Linked DNA regions of Homo sapiens. The protein of the gene in region 1 purifies or fractionates together with the protein of each later gene. This does not show direct contact. Each region holds a gene or a part of one and is shown in the gene's direction. Other genes may lie near its edges.

What was found. Proteins that work in one complex are often made in the same cells at the same time.
Region 2: the proteins of EGFLAM (region 1) and CLSTN1 purify together in Homo sapiens (affinity purification with mass spectrometry; one large-scale study listed by BioGRID and IntAct). This does not show direct contact.
Region 3: the proteins of EGFLAM (region 1) and MAN2C1 purify together in Homo sapiens (affinity purification with mass spectrometry; one large-scale study listed by BioGRID and IntAct). This does not show direct contact.

Annotation. Positions count from the first base shown.
Region 1 is NC_000005.10:38,456,518-38,461,771, forward strand, and holds part of EGFLAM (pikachurin isoform 1 precursor), read left to right. Parts: intron 1-1,793; coding exon 1,794-1,877; intron 1,878-4,407; exon of another isoform or gene 4,408-4,796; intron 4,797-5,254. UniProt on the Homo sapiens protein: Involved in both the retinal photoreceptor ribbon synapse formation and physiological functions of visual perception.
Region 2 is NC_000001.11:9,742,975-9,748,228, reverse strand, and holds part of CLSTN1 (calsyntenin-1 isoform 1 precursor), read left to right. Parts: intron 1-3,585; coding exon 3,586-3,834; intron 3,835-4,223; coding exon 4,224-4,345; intron 4,346-5,254. UniProt on the Homo sapiens protein: Postsynaptic adhesion molecule that binds to presynaptic neurexins to mediate both excitatory and inhibitory synapse formation.
Region 3 is NC_000015.10:75,357,617-75,362,870, reverse strand, and holds part of MAN2C1 (alpha-mannosidase 2C1), read left to right. Parts: intron 1-122; coding exon 123-229; intron 230-417; coding exon 418-528; intron 529-923; coding exon 924-1,016; intron 1,017-1,150; coding exon 1,151-1,267; intron 1,268-1,489; coding exon 1,490-1,585; intron 1,586-1,679; coding exon 1,680-1,825; intron 1,826-2,182; coding exon 2,183-2,306; intron 2,307-2,659; coding exon 2,660-2,781; intron 2,782-2,882; coding exon 2,883-2,968; intron 2,969-3,095; coding exon 3,096-3,251; intron 3,252-3,432; coding exon of another isoform or gene 3,433-3,445; coding exon 3,446-3,543; intron 3,544-3,679; coding exon of another isoform or gene 3,680-3,717; coding exon 3,718-3,812; intron 3,813-4,062; coding exon 4,063-4,167; intron 4,168-4,252; coding exon 4,253-4,409; intron 4,410-4,526; coding exon 4,527-4,670; intron 4,671-5,254. UniProt on the Homo sapiens protein: Cleaves alpha 1,2-, alpha 1,3-, and alpha 1,6-linked mannose residues on cytoplasmic free oligosaccharides generated by N-glycoprotein degradation pathways.

The DNA of each region.
Region 1 (5,254 bases):
GGGAAAACTCATTAGAAAACAGTGGACTTTTCAGGGTCAGAGTGGCAGCTTTGTCCCAGGGTTTGTCAAGTCACCCCAAGTCCTATTCTTGGTTAAATGTCAATGGGCTGTGTGAGTTCTTCGAGCCTCCATTATTAAAGGAATGATCTATGGTGCTTTCTCTGGAGAAAGCCAAGCACTTTCTATTCTTGCTGTTTTCTCAGAATGAGTACATGCCAGTGCTTGTTAACTCATCCAGATTTTCTCTCGACATCCCTCTCTCTTGGGCAATGAGGTGAAGGAGAGATATGTCCTCTTACAAAATGAGGAGGGAGTCATCCCAGGTGGAACATACTTCCCTTCAAAAGCTTGATGGCCTAGGCTTTATTGTATTATCCAGGGAAAGTCTGGGCAGTTGGCCCAGTGCCCGGGCTAGAGTAGTCACTCACTAAATATTTGTCGAATTAAATTTAATTAGAATAATTGAATGAACACTGGATTAAGGGGGATATTTCTCTCTGGTAACAACATGTTCATGTTTTCTGAAACCCTTATGGTATCGGGGTATCTGGGAACTGAAATAGAAAATAGGAAGCCACTAGAGAAACCTGATAGCAGAGTTAAATGGATAAGGGCAGAGGATACACCAAGTTCAAGTTCTACATTAGGTTTGTGATTTTAGGCAAATTCCCTTAATCTCTCTGGGGCTCACCCTACTCTGCAATGTTCATTTTTTTTTAAAAAGTGAAAACAGATGCATTCATTTCTTAGGGCTCTGATAATACATGACCACAAATTAGGTGGCTTAAAACAATAGAAGTGGGCTCTCTCACAGTTCTGAAGGCTAGAAATCCACCATGCAGTGCAAGGGTTGGCTTCTTCTGGAGGGTCTCAGGGAGAATCGGCTCCATGCCTGTCCCCCAGGTTCTGGTGGTGGCTGGCAGCCCTTGGCATTCCTTGGCTTGGAGATGCCCCATTCCAGTCCCTGCCTCCAGTTTCCCATGGCTTTCCCTGTCTCTGTGTGTCTCTGGCTCCATGTCCAAATCTCTTCTCATAAAGATACCAGTTATATTGGATCCATGGCTGCCCTAATCCAGTATGACTTCATTTTAACTAATGAATCTGCAAAGACCCTATTTTCAAATAAGTAACATTCTGAGGCTCTGGGTAGACATGAATTTGGCGGGTGGAGGGAGGGGGCAGACCATCATCGTAACATAGTATAAAACATTACACATGATAAAGCCCTTCTTGTTATTCCTGATACTTTAGTACTGATGTTGCCTTACATGAGGGCATTAAAAAACAATCTTGATAACATTATGCTAAGTGAAGTAAGCCAGTCACAGTCACAAAAAAGACAAATACTCTATGATGCCACTCATATGAGGTATGTAGAAGAATCAAATCCACAGAGTCAGAAGGTAGAAGGCTGGTTGTCAGGGGCTGGGGGGAGGGAAGAATGAGGGGTTATTATTTAATGCAATGCTTTTGTTTTGTAAGATGAGTTTTGGAAATTGCCAGCCCAACAATATGAATATGTACTTAATGCTGCGGCACTGTATGCTTAAAAATGGTTACGATGGCCATGGTTATGTTACATATATTTTACCATAATTTAAAAGTTTAATAATTTTTAATTTCATGAACCAGCCTAGAAACCCAACAACTTTTATAACACTCTTGTTTTTTGTTAAGGAAACTGCACTCTGAGTTGCAAAGAACTTTTGCCCTGAGAATCGTCTGTGAACCGTGTCTGCTTATGCCTCAGTGTTTTATTCTGTTCTCTGTCTTCTTCTTCTCCAATGCCTTAGCTATAACCTGGGCAGTGGTGTGGCATCCATCATGGTGAATGGCTCCTTCAACGATGGTCGGTGGCACCGAGTTAAGGCCGTTAGGTGAGTCCCTCCCGCAGCATGAGGCAGAGCCAGAGCTGAGCAGTGGTGGGATGTGGTGTCCAGTTCCCTTGTAGTCCCACTGTCCTGTTCCCCAACTTTGCCTGGCATCCTAGTTACCCCTGATCCAGGGCATTCAGGGAATTTTCTACCAATTCCCGCTGTGCCCTACATTGACACTATCAGGCCAGGGAAACTGAACCCCCAAACCTTCATTAAGCAGTAACCTTCTGGAGAAGAAACCTTTTGATGGCTGATCTGGAAGAACCTTGAGAGTTCAGTGTATGTGGACTTTAAAGAATGTTTGGGCCGGGCATGGTGGCTGACACCTGGAATACCAGCACTTGGGGAGGCCGAGGTGGGTGGATCACCTGAGCTCAGGAGTTTGAAACCAGCCTGAGTTACATGGCGAAACCCTGTCTCTACAAAAAATACAAAAATTGGCTGGATGTGGTGGCACACGCCTGTAATCCTAACTACTCGGGAGGCTGAGGTGGGAGGACCGCTTAAGCCTGGGAGGTGGAGGTAGCAGGATCATGCCATTGCACTCCAGCCTGGGTGACAGAGTGAGACCCCATCTCAAAAAAAAAAAAAGACTTTCAAATCTCATTGTACAGGCAATCCTCCCCCCTCCCTCTGGCTTTTTTTTGTTTGTTTTGTTTTGAGACAGGTTCTCGCTCTGTCACCTAGGCTGGAGTACAGTGGTGTCATCATGGCTCAGTGCAGCCTCGCTTGACCTCCCAGGCTCAGGCAGTCCTCCCACTTCAGCCTCTTGAGTAGCTGGGACCACAGGTGTGCACCATCTGCCTTGCTATGTTGCCAGGGCTGGTCTCAACCTCCTGGCCTCAAGTGATTCTCCCACCTTGGCCTCCCAAAGTGTTGGGATTACAGGCATGAGCCACTGCACCTGGCCACTTTTTTTTTTTTTACACATTACCTAAACCTTAGAACCTGACTGTATTTCACTCAGCCCCAATTACATATCTCCCCCATCACAGAGGTAATCACCATCCTGACTTCTGATTAACTTTGGATGAATCATTCCTTTGCTCTTCTTTATATAATAGTTTTACTATTAATACCTTTGTCCATATTTCTAACAACATATTTTCAGAAACGAAATAGCAGGCTGAAACTTAGAAATGTCAATCTCGCAAGTTAGATGAAGGTCCCAGGAGAAGATAAGCTGAAATGAAGGTCTGGTTGGGGTTCCCTGAGAATTTATCATAACCCTTTCTGGGGAAGCCAGTGGGTAAAGTCATGAGTGAGGCCTGGGAAACATGGCGCCCACCATGGCTACTTTCCTACTCAGCTCCCATATAGGCTGCAATGGGGAGAGACTTGCTGGGCCCCCAACCCCTGGCTGCTGGGCCCCCAACCCCTGGCTGCTGGGCCCCCAACCCTGGCTGTTGGGCCTGCCTTTGAAACCCTAGAGGAAATGGGGATACAGAGGCAGATCTGTGCCTCTCAGCTTCCCAGATGGTCTAGAAAGCCCTTGAGACAGAGGTTGATTTTGATGAAGTCTCAACTCTAACTTTCTGAAAAAAGAAATGTTGTCCCATCATGAATATCCACATGCTTGGATTTCAAATAGTTTCTAGACTACAAGTTAAAAATTCAGAGCCCAGCCTAACTCCAAAATACTCCAAACTCTATGGCTTCTAACTTCTTCATTTCTGCCTCTTACCCATCTTTAAAGGGGCTTGGCCAGAGACATCCAAAGGAATATGAAATGCTTGAGCTCTTTACCTCTAACCACACTTGATCCCTACAAATCCCCACCCTGGGAACATCAGGGAACAACACCCTTCTCCCAGTTTCCTTGGGTGGAGATCATTGGTAGAATACTCACACATTGTGGAATAATTTTTAAGCCTTCCCAGTTGTTGTTGGGGTTTGATTATGTGTATCAAGATACACTCTGGTGAGGATACCAGGCACTTCCTAGACATCTAAGGAAACTGATGTTAAATGATCTTCCCCTAGACTATACAACTGTTTGTGGGAAAAGCCAAGATTAGAATCCCAGCTCAAAGCCCTTTCCATCCTACCCCATGATGAAACCCACCCAAAGCTAGGATTTCAGATGTTTGGGAGGGATAAGGCAGTGGAATGTTCTACAGGAAGAATTTCACATGTCAGAGTGTCAAGCTGGGCACCATGCAGATGGCTTAGCAGACTTGGCTTTTCCTGTTGGCATCATGGATACCTCTGCTGGTGGGTCTTAGGTTGCAATGAGGGCTGAACAGAAGGAGTCGAGCCCAGGAACTAGATGAATGGGAGGATTCCAGCAGATACTGTGAGTTGTGAGCAGACAGGCCTAGAAGGGAAGAGTTCTCAGGGGGAACTGGGTCAAGGCCATGGATATCAATTATGGCAAGAAGGATTGAGCAGATACCTTAATTCTCTGTAGCAGGCTCCAGGGTTAGAGATAGGAGTGTCAATGAAAAGGAGATTGCCCAGGGGGCCTTGCTTTGGACAGTGTCTTGCTCTGGGGCATCCTGCTCTTGCAGGCATTAATCCCAGCAGAAAAGAGAAAATAAATTCCAGTTTATTAAACATCTCCAGTTGCCAGGTACTTTTCATACTTTGTCTCAATATTCACAGCAACTTAGGTTTTATAATCTTCATTTTATGGATAAAAATGATAATGATATTGATAACAATAACAACACACTCCTCTACCAGTCTTTATAGAGCAAGATGTGTATCAGGTATCATGCCCTGTGCTTTGTACGCATAACATCTGATCTCCACAATAATCTCGGGAGATGGGCATAGCTATTCCCATCTTAGGTGAGGATGCTGAAGCTCCACAGATTCACTGTTCATTCATCATCTGGGATGAGCCTTATATCATTCCAGACACAGGAGATACCTCATTGAAGAAAATTAACATCCTTGCCTTGATGGTCTTGCATTCTAATGGGAAGCAACAGACAATAAGTAATAAACATGATAAAGAAGCATGTTATTATGCTAGAAGGTGATGCCACATTTTTTCAAATCTAAGATGCCATTGATTATAAGGTATATCTTCATTTTAGATATAAAAAATGAAAAACTCTTAGACTTTATGAACTAGAGTAAGTAGAAAAAAATGGAATATTTTAGAGTAATTAATTTTTTTTTTTAAAGGCAGGGCAAGCAAGGCAAGCTGTTGCGGGTTCTGCCTGTCACAGCATTCAGATACAGGATTCTAAGAAAGCACTTCCCAAATGGGAAGTTTGTGGTCTCAAAGATGGGGACAGAACAAGAGAAAGTTCTGTAAATCTCTAGAAGAGTTGCTATCAAGAAGTGAAGCCTGAGTGAGTCCACCCCCTAGTGCTATAGAAGCAAATGTATTTGCTTGAACAAGGCTCATGGGGCTGGATAGGTTT
Region 2 (5,254 bases), on another chromosome or scaffold:
TAGTTGACTGGTGATAAAATCCCACTAAATGAAGCAGCGTCTTCATAAATTGGAAGGGTCTTTTGTGTTTCAAAAAGCTTTTGTGAAACAGCTTTTCAGGGAGCATTTTCTTAAACTGATGAGTCTTTTCACTAGCCTGATAACAACCATGAGATTTAGGTTACTGGTTTTCTTTTTTTTTTTTTTAGACAGAGTCTCACTCTGTCACCCAGGCTGGAGTGCAGTGGCGCCATCTCGGCTCACTGCAAGCTCCGCCTCCTGGGTTCACACCATTCTCCCGCCTCAGCCTCCCGAGTAGCTGGGACTACAGGCACCTGCCACCATGCCCGGCTAATTTTTTTGTATTTTTAGTAGAAACGGGGTTTCACCGTGTTAGCCAGGATGGTCTCGATCTCCTGACCTCGTGATCCGCCCACCTCGGCCTCCCAAAGTGCTGATTGCAGGCATGAGCCACCGCGCCCGGCCACTGGTTTATAATTGAAAATTATCCAGATCACTTGAGGTCAGGGGTCTAAGACCAGCCTGATCAACATGATGAAACCCCCGCTCTACTAAAAATAAAAAATTAGCCAGGCGTGGTGCGAGGTGCCTATACTCCCAGCTACTTGGGAGGCTGAGGCAGGAGAATTGCTTGAACCCAGGAGGCTGCAGTGAGCCAAGAGTGTGCCACTACTCTCCAGCCTAGGTGACAAAGCTAGACTTTGTCTTAGAAAAAAAACAATAAATAAGAAGAAAATTATCATGTGGTAAATAAACCAAAGTAGAAAACTAGACATTATGCTGCCACAGTCCAATGATGAGCATATGGGGGTGTTTGGCAACTCTGAATCCAAATATTCATAATTGTCACCTAAATATATTTAAGTAAGGAGGTCTGGCACATTTTCTGTTTTAAACCATGCATGTAAGTATAATATATAAAATTTATTCCGTCTCTCATTTCATGGTATTAAGTGAATTTTTTTTCAGCAGAATAAAGTTAGGAAGAATAGAAATAATTTGAGTGCTTACTATGCACCAGGTACTTTTTTTTTTTTTTTTTTTTTTTTTTTGAGACAGTCTCCCTCTGTCGCCCAGGCTGGAGTGCAGTGGCGCAATCTCACTCACTGCAACGTCTGCCTCCTGGGTTCAAGCGATTCTCCTGCCTCGGCCTCCCAAGTAGCTGGGATTACAGGCATGTGCCATGATGCCTGGCTACTTTTTGTATGTTTAGTAGAGATGGGATTTCACCATGTTGGCGAGGCTCGTCTCCAACTCCTGACCTCAAGTGATCCACCCACCTCGGCCTCCCAAAGTGCTGGGATTATATGCATGAGCCACTGCGCCTGGCCTTACTCCAGGTACTTCTATGTGTGTTTTAGCTTAATGTTCCCAACAAGTCTACGAAGTAGGTGGGTATTGACCTTGTTACAGAGGAATTAAACAATTGAGACTAAAGCAGGTTAAGTAGCTTGCCCAAGCCCACATATTCAGGAGCTGAGGTTCTAGTGTGTGTGTGTGGTTTTTTTTTTTCTTTTGAGACAGAGTCTCACTGTCGCCCAGGCTGGAATGCAATCGTGCTATCTTGGCTCACTGCAGCCTCCACTTCCTGTGTTTAAGTGATTCTCCCACCTCAGCCTCCCAAGTAGCTGAGATTACAGGCATCTGCCATCATGCCTGGCTCATTTTTGTATTTTTGTAGAGACAGAGTTTCACCATATTGGCCAGGCTGGTTTGAACTCTTGACCTCAGTTGATCTGCCTGCCTCAGCCTCTCAAAGTTCTGGGATTACAGGCGCAAGCCACCACGTCTAGCTTCAGGAGCTAAGATTTGGACCAAGGTCTTCTGTTACTCAAGAGGCCAGGCTGGTCCAGCCAAGGCCTGCTGCTCCGAGTAATAGCTTAGTCAAGAAGGAGCTTGCAAAATCTTTTCCTGTGGACAAAAAAAAATTTTTTTAATTTGAACATGGCAATACATAAGAATGGTTGGAAAACATTTTTTATGTTTTTTGACTTAGTAATTTCATTTCTAGGAATTTATTTTAAGGGAATAATCATGGAGACACATAAAGCTGTGCATGCAGGTGAGGTTTATAATAGGAAAAGGTTAGGGACAGCCTCTGTGCCCACCTGGGAGGCTGGTCAGTAGGTGATGCTGTATCTGTACAATGAAATGCTATTCAGGCCGAGCGCGGTGGCTCACACCTATAATCCCAGCACTTTGGGAGTCTGAGGCAGATGGATCGCTTGAGCCCAGTAGTTGGAGACTAGCTTGGACAACATGGCGAAACCCCGTCTCTACAAAAACACAAAAATTAGCCGGGCATGGTGGCACACACCTGTGGTCCCAGCTACTTGGGAGGCTGAGGTGGGAGGATTGCTTGAGCTCAGGAGGTCAAGGCTGCGGTAAACCAACGCTGCACCACTGCACTGCAGCCTGGGCGAGAGAGGAGACCCTGTCTCAAAAAAAAAAAAAAAAAAAAAACAACTATTCAGATAGTTTAAATTACATGATAGAAGAATATTGCTAGGAATATATATGTATTATGCACATACATAGCAGGACTCCACTTTTATTGTATTTGTTTATATATTTTTGAGACAGGGTCGCACTCGCCCAGGCTGGAGTATAGTGGCACAGTCACAGCTCACTGCAGCCTCAACCTCCTGGGCTCAAGTGATCCTCCCATCTCAGCCTCCCAAGTAGCTGGGACTACAGGGATGCACCACCACACCTGGCTAATTTTTGTGTTTTTTGTATTGACAGGGTTTTGCCATGTTGTCCAGGCTGGTCTCCAACTCCTGGGCTCAAGCAATCTGTGTGCCTTGGCCTCCCAAAGTGCTGGGATTACAGGTGTGAGCCACCAAGCCCTGCCAGGACTCCATTTTTCTAAGAAAACGCATCATTTTTGTGTATATTTACCAAAGGAGGACTGGGTGTTTATACTAAAATGGTATAATTTGAATCAGATTACAAGAAATGCTTCCTTTCCCTTCCTTTTTGTTTTTTTTTTTTTTTTTTGAGACGGAGTCTCGCTCTGTTGCCCAGGCTGGAGTGCAGGGGTGCGATCTCGGCTCACTGCAAGCTCCGCTTCCCGGGTTCACGCCTGGCCCTTTCCCTTCCTTAAACAAATCCATGGTTGTTATTTTTATTTTTGTAATTTAAAACCCTGATTTTTGAAGAGAAGTAAACTGAAAGGGCCAAGCGTGGTGGCTCACGCCTGTAATCCCAGCACTTTTGGAGGCCGAGTCAGGCGGATCACGAGGTCAGGAGTTCCAGGCCAGCCTGGCCAACATGGTGAAACTCCGGCTCTCCTGAAAATGCAAAAATTAGCCAGTTTTAATGGGGCGCGCCTGTAATCCCAGCTACTCGGGAGGCTGAGGCAGGAGAACAGCTTGAACCCGGGAGGTGGAGGTTGCAATGAACCGAGATCGCGCCACTGTACTCCAGCCTGGGGACAAAGCAAGACTCTGTCTCGAAAGAAAAAAAAAAAGTAAACTGGAGCCAGCAGATTGCCTAAGTGTAAGACAAGCACGTGCCTGGGGGCTTGAGGTGCGCGGGACCTCTGGCTCCTCACATGAGTTTCACCGAGCACTGTGGCTTCAGGTGCGGCCGCGGGCACTGCCGAGCTGCTGCCATCCCCGAGTGGATCCCTCAACTGGACCATGGGCCTGCCCACCGACAATGGCCACGACAGCGACCAGGTGTTTGAGTTCAACGGCACCCAGGCAGTGAGGATCCCGGATGGCGTCGTGTCGGTCAGCCCCAAAGAGCCGTTCACCATCTCGGTGTGGATGAGACATGGGCCATTCGGCAGGAAGAAGGAGACAATTCTTTGCAGTTCTGATAAAACAGGTAGGGTAATAGCTCTGCAAGCGATGCCAGGCCCCAGTGTCCAGTAGGGTGGGTGCCAGCGGCAGGCTCCCTCTCCTTTCCCAGGGTCCCCTGCCAGCCTGGTGCTCGTAGGCCATGTGCCATGCTGTGTGCCTGGGGCACTTGGTTCCCTAGAGCCACGGCCTGGGCATTTGGGTATTAGCTGTTGTTGCTCAGTGGGGTCCACGGTGATCACAGGCTCCGCCTCTCAGGAAAGCCCAAGTGTATTTGTTTCTAAGCCCTGCCTTGGCTTAGCCGAAGAGTTCATTTATGCAGATGAAATTGTGTCTTCAAAATCCATTCAAGAAACAGCTTTAATTTCTCCTTTGGATCTTTAGTTGGCAATTTACCCATAGAAACTGCCTTTGCAGATATGAATCGGCACCACTACTCCCTCTATGTCCACGGGTGCCGGCTGATCTTCCTCTTCCGTCAGGATCCTTCTGAGGAGAAGAAATACAGACCTGCAGAGTTCCACTGGAAGTTGAATCAGGTGAGTGAATTGAAAACGCACTAATAGGGCCGGGCAAGGTGCTCACACCTATAATCCCAGCACTTTGGGAGGCTGGGGCACGAGGATTGCTTGAGCCCAGGGGTTCGAGACCAGCCTGGGCAACATTACTAAGATCCTGTCCCTACAAAAAAAAAAAAACCCACGAAAATTAGCTGGGCATGGTGGCACATGCCTGTAGTCCTGGCTACTTGGGGAGCTGAGGTGGGATGATTGATGGAGCCCAGGAGGTCAAGGCTGTAATGAGCTGCGATTGTGCCACTTCACTCCAGCCTGGATGACAGAGTGAGACCCCGTCTCCAAAGAAAAAGAAAAACACTGTCATCTTCTAAGAGAGAGTAAGCAGGTACTGCAACCTTGCACATGGATGGCTGTGTATAGTCAGTGTATATTTATAATTTTATGAGTAGCTGGGACTACAGACACATGCCACCACACCCAGCTAATTTTTGTATTTCTAGTAGAGATGAGGTTTCACCATATTAGCCAGGCTAGTCTTGAACTCCTGACTTCAACTGATGCACCCACCTCAGCCGCCCAAAGTGCTGGGATTGCAGGCCTGAGCCACTGTGCCCGGCCGCAAAGCTAATTTTCTAGCAGTTGCTGTGATAGAAAGCAAATATCCTGTGAAAAACCCCACGTGCTACAGGAAACGAGAGAGCACTGTAAAATTAGAACCCTCTATTAAAATCAGAATAGATCATTTTTTCTTTTGATGTAGAGTTGGGATGAGAAGGAAACCTTTGGCCTTATCATCATTTTATTTGTCTCATGGAGTTAGTGGACAAAAGCTGACATATGTTATATGTGCCTGCAGTTGCTAAAATATAATAGTGTCTAAAAATAATCATAGGATAGATAAAAGTAAAAGAGAATAAATGAGAAAGGAAA
Region 3 (5,254 bases), on another chromosome or scaffold:
CACAGGGCTTTCCAGGGTGAAGGGCCTGGGATGGGAGGGGGGCTAGGTGACCCTCTGGAGTCCCAGCCCAGGCCTGGTCAGCCTTGCTGCTCCCTCTGTCCTCCACCTCACTCCCCGTATAGCCTGGCTTTGGCCCTTCAAAGAGACTGTGAGGAAATGTGCCCGGAGCTGGGTGACCGCCCTGCAGCTCATGGAGCGGAACCCTGAGTTCATCTTTGCCTGCTCCCAGGTCAGAGGGACAGCTGTGAGGGAGGAGGGAAGCACGTGGCCCTCCCTGGAGCTCCACAGGCCCTGAAGGCTTCCCAGGCCTGGGGTCAGGGCTGCTCCTCACCCTCAGCCACACACTGAGTCCCATATGCTCAGTCCTGGGTGGGGCCCTTGTCACTCTGGTCCCAGCTCCCTTCAACCTGCCCACAGGCGCAGCAGCTGGAATGGGTGAAGAGCCGCTACCCTGGCCTGTACTCCCGCATCCAGGAGTTTGCGTGCCGTGGGCAGTTTGTGCCTGTGGGGGGCACCTGGGTGGAGATGGTAAGTGCACTGGGCACTCCTCAGCCTTGAACTGTATGACAACAGCCTTCCCTCAGGTAGCCCCGCCCTCCCGGCTTTGCTGGTGAGTTTCCACGGGCCACTCATCCCCGCTGTGTGGCAGGGCTGGCTCATTAGTCCCTGGGATCTCAAGGCCTGGGACTTCAAGGGGGAGGAGAGCCTCCAGCGCTGTGACAAGTTGCATGGCCTAGTCCTGGGCACCCCCTCAGGCAGATGGACAGTCAGGCCTGAAGGACAGGGGCCCTTCCTGAGTTCTGGCTGTAACTCCCATGTTTGAGCAGCCCTGGCTTCTCCTGCAGGGATTGGGTTGGCCTGAGCGCCTGCCTGCTCCCCGTCCAGCGCTGACCTGGGCTGCCTCCCACTTCCTTCACTGCCAGGATGGGAACCTGCCCAGTGGAGAGGCCATGGTGAGGCAGTTTTTGCAGGGCCAGAACTTCTTTCTGCAGGAGTTTGGGAAGATGTGCTCTGAGGTAGGCTGAGAGCTGCTACACCAGGCTGTGGGCGAGTGGGGCTGGCGCTCGACTTGGAGTGCTGAGGGGCTGAGGCTGGGGTGAGTCCGCCTGGAGCTCTGGTTCCTGCACTCCAGGATCCTCTTTCTCCACAGTTCTGGCTGCCGGACACCTTTGGCTACTCAGCACAGCTCCCCCAGATCATGCACGGCTGTGGCATCAGGCGCTTTCTCACCCAGAAATTGAGCTGGAATTTGGTGAACTCCTTCCCAGTAAGCAGGCCCCCGGGGGGTCAGGGTCAGAGTGGGCCTCAGTCCCGCCTGGCCCATTTGCCTCTCCCCCTTATTGTGGGGTCCTAGACAGACCACCAAACCCTCACTCTGCCTCTGCCAGGGTCACATAGCAGGCAGGGGCAGGACCAAGTCTGGAAGGCCTGGCTCTGCCTCAGCCCTGACTCTGGCCTCTCTGCCCTGCTTCTGTTTCCCTGCTGGTAGCACCATACATTTTTCTGGGAGGGCCTGGATGGCTCCCGTGTACTGGTCCACTTCCCACCTGGCGACTCCTATGGGATGCAGGGCAGCGTGGAGGAGGTGAGGGGTCACCTAGGGTGGTGGGGTAGGGGCAGGCTGGAGAGGGCTGGCTTGTTCCAGGCTGATCCATGCTGGCCTGCCCTCACCTGTCTAGGTGCTGAAGACCGTGGCCAACAACCGGGACAAGGGGCGGGCCAACCACAGTGCCTTCCTCTTTGGCTTTGGGGATGGGGGTGGTGGCCCCACCCAGACCATGCTGGACCGCCTGAAGCGCCTGAGCAATACGGATGGGCTGCCCAGGTCAGGCCAGGCCTTGGCTCTCCTTTAGCCCCACCCTGGGCCCTTGCCATGAGCCCTGCCTTCCCTCAGACATTGGGCCCAACCCCTCCTCTGGACCTTGTCCTGTCCCAATCCTAGACCACGGGTTCCTCCAAACTTCCACCCTGGGGGTGGGTGGGGGAGAAGCTGAAGCTGGTAAGGGCTCCAGCCCATCAGAGAGAGAGGCTCTCCTAGGGCGTCCAGGGCTGGCCATCTGTGAACGGGGAGCTTTCTGGAGTGGCTCCTCTCTGTAGGAGCTGGATCCTTTGCTTTGGTGTGGAAGAAGGGTGAGCCATGTGGTCTCCAAGGCTGGGAGACCTAGGCTTGTGGTCTCCTCAGGGTGCAGCTATCTTCTCCAAGACAGCTCTTCTCAGCACTGGAGAGTGACTCAGAGCAGCTGTGCACGTGGGTTGGGGAGCTCTTCTTGGAGCTGCACAATGGCACATACACCACCCATGCCCAGGTCAGGGGGAGGTTGCAGGGCTGTGCAGGGAGGGTGTGCCCTTGATCTGCAGAGGGTCAGAGAAGGCAGCAGGGGACAGAGCCCAGGCCAGATCTAGGGGAAGAGAAGTTTGGAGGAGAGAAGTTCAAGACCTGGGTTGGTCAAGAAAGCTTGAAGGAGGCAGAAACCCCTGAAGAAAGAAGGGTTTGGGCTGCGGGGAGAAGAGGGAAGGCATTTAAGGCAGGTCACCCGCCAGAGGCCTTCTCCACGAGGCCCTTGGTGAGTCCTCAGGGATTCTGAGCAAGGGAGGGCTTTGGAAGGTGTCCTGGGACAGCTAAGCAGGCTCCAGACTAATCTTCCCATCCTGGGCTCAGATCAAGAAGGGGAACCGGGAATGTGAGCGGATCCTGCACGACGTGGAGCTGCTCAGTAGCCTGGCCCTGGCCCGCAGTGCCCAGTTCCTATACCCAGCAGCCCAGCTGCAGCACCTCTGGAGGTCAGCCCAGTTCTGTCCCTGCCATCCACCTGACTGCTCACTGCAGTTACCTCTGTGCCTGCCCCTCCCAGCCTTCCCATCCCTGCCCTTGGCCCCTGCAGGCTCCTTCTTCTGAACCAGTTCCATGATGTGGTGACTGGAAGCTGCATCCAGATGGTGGCAGAGGAAGCCATGTGCCATTATGAAGGTTAGGCTCACAATAGTCCTGCCTGCTCTCTCCAACCCCAGGGCTGAGCCCAGAGTGTCCCCTGTGGGATACCCATGGGCACATTCCAGACCTGTTGCCCACCTATGACCAGCCAGTCTTTCCTCAGACATCCGTTCCCATGGCAATACACTGCTCAGCGCTGCAGCCGCAGCCCTGTGTGCTGGGGAGCCAGGTCCTGAGGGCCTCCTCATCGTCAACACACTGCCCTGGAAGCGGATCGAAGTGATGGCCCTGCCCAAACCGGGCGGGGCCCACAGCCTAGGTACGAGCTGAGGGGAAGGGTTGCTACTGCAGCAGGAAGGATGGAGGCCAGACAGATCAGGCCTGGGATACCCCGAGGGATCTGGGTGCCCCTGACTGGAGAGTAGTAGCACATCTTCCACCAACCCATCCCCACCTGCGCAAGCTTCCTGAAAGGTCAGGAAGGCTGCACTGATGCCCAGGCCTCACCCCCAGCCCTGGTGACAGTGCCCAGCATGGGCTATGCTCCTGTTCCTCCCCCCACCTCACTGCAGCCCCTGCTGCCCCAGCAGCCTGTGTTCGTAGTGCAAGAGGTGAGTCCTGCATGCCCTGGGGGGCAGGAACTGTGCTGGGATACTTTCTTACAACTGAGGGTCCTGAGCTCCCCTGTCTGGAGCAAGTGGTGAGGCGGGGCTGGGGTTGGGGTGGGAAGACTTTTGGTGTGGGAAGCCCCTACAGACTCAGCCTCAAGGCCTCCTCCCACAAAGACTGATGGCTCCGTGACTCTGGACAATGGCATCATCCGAGTGAAGCTGGACCCAACTGGTCGCCTGACGTCCTTGGTCCTGGTGGCCTCTGGCAGGTGCCAAATCCTCATTGCCCTTTCCCAGTGCCTGGCAAGTAGACCCCAGGCCATTTCCTCTCTCCCCTTGCCACAACACTGCCCACAGCAGCCCACCAGTGGCTCTGGGCTGGAACCCACACATGGAGCAGGGCAGGCTGGGCAGTAGTCCCCTGTCCACTGGGTCTACTCACTCCACCCTACCCCACCAAGAGCAGCTGGAGACAGCGAGGTCAGTTGGTTGTACAGCACCAATCCCATGTCCTTCCAGGGAGGCCATTGCTGAGGGCGCCGTGGGGAACCAGTTTGTGCTATTTGATGATGTCCCCTTGTACTGGGATGCATGGGACGTCATGGACTACCACCTGGAGACACGGTATAGGCTGGGCAGCATGTGGGGATGGTGGAGGTGGTGGGAACACAGGCTGCTCTGGATCAGTATGTCCACCCCTGTCCCATAGGAAGCCTGTGCTGGGCCAGGCAGGGACCCTGGCAGTGGGCACCGAGGGCGGCCTGCGGGGCAGCGCCTGGTTCTTGCTACAGATCAGCCCCAACAGTCGGCTTAGCCAGGAGGTTGTGCTGGACGTTGGCTGCCCCTATGTCCGCTTCCACACCGAGGTAGTCGGGGGGTAGGGGGTGGCTGTTTTCCCCAAGTGTGCTTGGTAAGGAGGGGCCAGCCCCAGGCCTTGGTGTGTCTCTTCCTTCCCTGACTCCCACCCTCCTTCCCACTCCCAGGTACACTGGCATGAGGCCCACAAGTTCCTGAAGGTGGAGTTCCCTGCTCGCGTGCGGAGTTCCCAGGCCACCTATGAGATCCAGTTTGGGCACCTGCAGCGACCTACCCACTACAATACCTCTTGGGACTGGGCTCGATTTGAGGTCTGACATGGCAGGGTGGGAGTGGCCTTGGACTCCTCCCTGGCTGGGGAGACTGCTTGTGTGGAACAGGCTGGGGAGGAAGAGGATAATCAACATTTGCTGCTTCCTAACGTGTGTGCCAGGCATTGCACTAAATGCTTTACATTGGCAAGGCACAGTGGCTCACGCCTGTAATTCCAGCACTTTGGGAGGCCGAGGTGGGTGGATCACCTGAGGTCAGGAGTTCAAGACCAGCCTGGCCAACATGGTGAAACGCCATCTCTACTAAAAATACAAAAATTGGGCCGGGCGTGGTGACTCACGCCTGTAATCCCAGCAGTTTGGGAGGCTGAGGTGGGTGGATCACGAGGTCAAGAGATCGAGACCATCCTGGCTAACACGATGAAACCCTGTCTCTACTAAAAATACAAAAATTTAGCCGGGTGTGGTGGTGGGCGCCTGTAGTCCCAGCTACTTGGGAGGCTGAGGCAGGAGAATGGCGTGAATCTGGGAGGCAGAGCTTGCAGTGAGCCAAGATCGTGCCACTGCACTCCAGCCTGGGCGACAGAGCGAGACTCTGTCTCAAAAAAAAAAAAAAAAAAAAT